2 separate regions of the Homo sapiens genome follow, and region 2 is linked to region 1. A link means that fine-mapping ties the variant in region 1 to the expression of a gene that starts in the linked region. Tissue or cell type: sun-exposed skin. Region 1 holds a variant in brackets; the other region holds the start of a gene. All regions are shown on one strand. Distances are between the middles of the regions.

Region 1 (2,684 bases):
CTCCCTTCTTACCTCCCACCCTCCCACACACCCCACGCAGGAGGTAGAAGGGCCTACTTTCACGGACACCATTTCTCTGTAAAGAATTTAAAATAGTTTCTAAAGCACTTTTCCATGTCTTCTCTATTTTTATCCTTTCAGGAAACTTGCAAAGCCATAATATTATTTTACTTTTTTGGTGTAAAATGGAGCCCAAAAGGCTGTAAGGTGTGGTCATCCTGCAGCAGCTGGGGCATGGAGCACAGGGGAGCTGGCCTTCACACTGTGGGGTCTGCATTTGCTGTGGCAGACAAGCTCGTGGAGGTAACACCGCGCAAGGACAGTGAGCTGGAGAGAGGAGCCTGAGATGCTTGGGGTAAAGGTGCTTTCACCTTTGGAGGCAGGTTCCTTCCATCCGAGCAGAGGGCCCTGGACAGCCCTTCGTGAAACCTAGCAGTGAGAAGGTGTGTCTAGACTTGCTTCCATCCACACAGTGCCCTGGTGTCCCTTAAACTTTCCCATCACTCAGGGCCTTGGGCAGCAGCTGCACGGAGCGGGACCCTCAGAGACACTGTTGGATGGTCCTTTAAGATGGCAGGTGTTCTATTCCATGCACGTTTTGTAGATGAGAAACTAAAAACCGATGAAGTGACTTGCCTAACTTAAGCCACCCAGCTAATACATTGTAAAAGCAACATTTGAATCCAGATGGGAGAACCTATGTTCTGCAGAGAGCTTGAAAGGGTGAAAGGAGGAAGAACTCTTGCTTCCCTAGGGAGCCCGGGGAGGGAGACAGAGCCAGGAGTTAAGAAACTGTCCATGCATGAGAACTCGAGACTCTCACAAAGCTGCAAGCTGTGCACTATGACACCCATTTGATAGAGAGGGAAACTGAGGCTCAGAGGTTCAAGGACGGAGACCGGTATTGATCCCAGCTCTGACAGCAATGCTCCACGCTGCCTCCACTGCACATAAAGAGAAATCTCCTTGGCGTTGGGACCGCTGAACCCCACGATAGCAGCTGGTCCCCGGATCTGGATGTCTGGCCCCACAGAGAACCCGTTGAAGGCAGCATTGGAATCATGATGAGGCCGATACCATGGACGACCCCAGGAGGTGCATGTGGTGGGAAGTGGGTGGGCACGACCCCCAGGCCACCCATGCTGTCTTGACACTGGAGCTGCTGCCCTGGCCTCTGACCGGCTGGCCAGCCTCCGTGGCGCCTCCCCACCAAGCACTGGCTTCCGTGGCCTGAAGATCCCAGTGCAAATGAATCAGAAACACATGGCTGACTTTTCCCTGGAATTACACGTGATTTGACAAATGGTTAGAAGTCTCTGGCAAAATACATTTGGGATTATTTTATTGTCTAAAAGTTTGAAAAATAAGTTTGAGATGTTCCAAAAGTCTGAACACGGC[T/G]TTCCTTACTCATCATGCTGTTGAACAAGGAGTAAATAACTGCCGGTGTGACACCCCAGAGAAGCCCTTCCTGATGCAGTCGACGGGGGTGAGAACGTCGCGGGAAATATTCCCTCACTAACCCCCACTTTGGGCTACACAGCGGCCTTGGAGAGGACCACACTCTACAGGAAAAACATCAGGCTTGCAAAGATGTTTACAATAGCAGAGGCATGGAGTTGGTAGAAGAGAAAGATCTCCAAGCAAAGAATGGGTTTTCCCTGAGAAGGTCGCATCCCATGCAGACAACCCATTTCGCCTCACCAGGAAAGCTGAACTCAGACCCCTGTGAGTTGTGTTCATAGCGCTTTACGTCCATCTCCTTAAAACTGTGGTGGTGGCTTACGTCTGTCATCCCCGCACTTTGGGAAGCTGAGGCGGGCAGATGATGAGATCAAGAGTTTGAGACCATCCTGGCCAACACGGTGAAACCCCATCTCTACTAAAAATACAAAAATTAGCTGGGCGTGGTGGAGCGTGCCTGCAGTCCCAGCTACTTGGGAGGCTGAAGCAGGAGAATCACTTGAACCCGGGAGGCAGAGCTTGCAGTGAGCCGAGATCGTGCCATTGCCCTCCAGCCTGGTGACAGAGCGAGACTCCGTCTCAGAAAAACAAAAACAAAAACAAACTGTGGCATCTTCAAGAAGATGGCATTTTATCCAATTCCCCTTTAATGAGAATGTGAGCTTAAGTTAGGCTAACTTTTGTCTCTCTGTTGTCCCTAATCGGACTAAGAAAAGCCACGTGATCTTGAGCAGAACAAGGAACATTTCAGCCCCCCGGCCTGTAACAGGGAAGGTGAGTGGCTGGGGGTGGGAGGCGGATGCCCTTTCTTCATTCCTGCCCAGCTCTGGTGCTCCTGGCTGGGGGCTTCCTCTGAGGCTCTGTTCCCTGGGCAGTCAGGGCTTGGGCATGGGGCCTTTCCTCTTCTTGTCTTACAACTGAGTCACAGAGACCCCTCTGGAGGGGGTCACACCCCAAATCAAGGAAGTGCTGATAAGGCTGGGACAGCTTGAAGGAACCATGAGAGGGCTGAGCGGGGAGGCTGGATTCAGGGTTCTGCCCCATTGATCATCTTTGATGGTGTGGGACAGGCAGAAGAGGAGGGAAGGCGGTAGGCAGGGGACACCTGGATCCCTTCCATGTACAGCAGTGAGGGTGTCCTGTGGGTGGAGGGTGGGGCAGCCTGTGCACAGAAAAACCGTCCCCAGCCTGGAACTGAGCCCCAGGTGGAGACCACCGTGGCC
Region 2 (2,684 bases), 260 kb after region 1:
TGTTGCTAATTATAGGCGATGTCTCAGTGTCTGTCCTCAGGCCCGGAAAACCGGAGCCCCTCCTGATGCTGCTGAAGTCCCTGGGCCTCGAGGCTCCGTGAAGAGAGGGAAGCGAGGCAGGGGGTGAAGGGACCGCCTGGCCGGTGTCCAGGATACGGGTGGCTCAAACCACCAGCAGAACAGCATGCCGACTCTGGCCCGATGGCCGCCTTCATCCCGTAGCCCCAACCCGGCCTAAAGCCGAGAAGACGCCAGAGTGCGCTGCTGAAATTCCCGCGGAGTCCGGTGTGCTGGAGAGCCGCAGCGGGGTGAACTCCCGGCCCCGTCTCTGCGTAGGAGGTGGTTCGCAAAGTGGCCCCGGGAGCCGGGACTGGTACCCGGTTCCCCACGGCACCGTCCGGAGCTCTCCAGCCACGAGGCGCAGAAGTGGCCTGCCAGCGCCTTCCCAGGCTCAGGGAGGCGAGGAGGCCCGTGCACTTGGCATCTTCTCCCGGGAGCCGCACGGCCAGGGCCGCGGCGAAACGGAGCCCATCTCAAGTGCGCCGCGCCTGGCCGCGTCCTGTAGCCCGACGAGGCTGAGGATGGAGAGGGGAGACGCAGGGAGAAGAGGGACGCGGGACTTGGACCCAAGAGGCCGCTCCGTTGCCGGTCTGGCGGCGGCGCCGACTCGGGTTCGCGCGTTCCACACAAGTTTCCTGTCTGCCTCTGCACACCTGGTGGACAAACCGGGCGTCCAGGCCACACCGTCTTCCCCCTTCGCGGGGGCGCGGGGGATGTTTCCCTCCGGCTGCCAGGGGGCTTTCTGGGTGAAGAGAAAGCCCCTCCCCCCGCGTCTCCCCCACCCCTCCCTCCGAGAACCCGCGGCGCCGACTGCGCCTGCTTCCCCCGAGCTGGCGACTTCTCCGCGGGATTTGCCCTCGCTCAAAGTTTGCACAATTGAAAGAGCCCGCAGAGCTCGGCCGCTCCCCGCTTCCCCAAGGGCGGCGAGGCCGGTCATTGGCAGACGATCGGTTACTACCCAGTAGGGGCCCACGGGAACCCGCATCTGGAGTCGGGGGTGTCACGCCACGCCGGTTCAGTGGCTCGCGGAGAGCGTCCGGGTGCACTTCTGCCAAAGATGTCCCCTGGAGGCCCCGGCCGCGCGGGACTCGGGGGAGAGGCCGCTCCCCCCTCGCTGTCACCAGCGTCCAGGCCGCCGGCCCCTTCCCCGCTGCCCAAACAGTAGAAAAGCAGGCGCCAAGTTGTTTTTGTTAAAAAGGGGACACACCTCGGCCGCGAAACTGCAAACCCGGTGTCAGACAGCTGTAAACCCGTGTCGACAGGTTGTCAGACAGCTGCGGGGGCTGGTCGGGAAGGAGCCCACGGCCTCCGGGCCCACACCCCGCCGCCCCGACGCGCGCGCCCACCGCGAGAGTAGCTGGCCGGGCCGGCACGGGGCACCACGTGCTCGCGGGAGGGGCGGGAGCGGCCGGCGAGGGCGGGCGGGAGGCAGGGAGGGGGCGGGAGGGGAGCCAGGGGCGGGGCCTGCGCTCAAGGGGATGCCAATCAAAGCATCAACTTCAAATTGTGTCTGAAAGCCCCGCCGCCGAGCGGAGGGCGGCCGCCGCAGTCGGCGCGCGATTGCGGATCCGGGCGCAGCCGGGAGCCGGGCGCCTGCGAGCACCGGGCAGAGGAGCCGCGACCGGCCTCCATCTCCCGGCCCGCCCGAGCGCGCCCGGCCGGCCGCCCGCTCCTCCCTAGACCCCTCGCGGCGCCCCCTGCAACCCCCTCCGGCCGGCCTCCGCCTCCCTCCCCGCGCCTTTAATACTCGCCCGCTGCGGCGGTCGCCGAGTCCGCGGACATGTCCTTCCCGCAGCTGGGCTACCCGCAGTACCTGAGCGCCGCGGGGCCGGGCGCCTACGGCGGCGAGCGCCCGGGGGTGCTGGCCGCGGCCGCTGCGGCGGCTGCCGCCGCCTCGTCGGGCCGACCGGGGGCCGCGGAGCTGGGCGGCGGGGCAGGCGCGGCTGCAGTCACCTCGGTGCTGGGCATGTACGCGGCGGCGGGGCCGTACGCGGGCGCGCCCAACTACAGCGCCTTCCTGCCCTACGCCGCGGATCTCAGCCTCTTCTCGCAGATGGTGAGTGCGCCCGGCCTCCCCCGCTTCTCCTCTGTCTCACCCGCGCCAGGGCAAGGGTGGCGGGTCGCCCGGGAGGGAGAGACTACGGGTGGACCTGGTCCGGAAGAGGAACTAGAAAGGTCCGGGGGCAGGTTCCCGGTGGCCGAGGCCGCGGCCCCCGGGGACGCAAGAGGGCTGGGAGGCCGGGCGGGTGACGGCTGGGCCATCTCGGCCTGGGAAAGCGGAAGGCCCGGGCCAGGGAGCGGGTAGCGAGTGAATTCAGAGAGGCCGCAGAAGCAGGCCCGTGGAGCGGTGCCCGCGCTGGAGGTCGGGGGCAAACTCGCCTGGCTCGGCCAGGGCGCCCGGGCAGGCCCACGGGGTTCCTGCAGGTCGGCCCGGCGTAGCGTAGCAGGACTTCCCTTCCTGGCCGCGGGTTCCACTCGCGCGGCCTCTTTAGTTTTCGAACCGAGTCTGGAAAACTTGGTTTTCTCCCTCTTTAGCAGCTCCGAGATAGTTGTATCCGAGTTTGCCAGACAGACCCCTTCTAAGCCTGGTAGAGTCAATCAAAATAATCTTAACAATAGAGGTC

Evidence for each region. PIP is the estimated chance that this variant, and not a neighbour inherited with it, causes the effect. A credible set is the group of variants that fine-mapping cannot tell apart.
Region 2: IRX1 starts here. The variant in region 1 is the best candidate, but not a certain one, in a credible set for the expression of IRX1 in sun-exposed skin (GTEx, PIP 0.89).

Annotation. Positions count from the first base shown.
Region 1 is chr5:3,335,682-3,338,365 of GRCh38, forward strand. No RefSeq gene overlaps it. Among named protein-coding and RNA genes, the nearest start is that of LINC02162, 120 kb to the right of the region's middle. The variant T/G (reference allele first, on the strand shown) is at 1,399.
Region 2 is chr5:3,594,266-3,596,949 of GRCh38, forward strand. IRX1 (iroquois homeobox 1) reads left to right here and starts at 1,567. Exons shown (of 4, transcript NM_024337.4): 1 at 1,567-2,116. The coding sequence starts at 1,841. RefSeq lists a silencer at 1,270-1,564.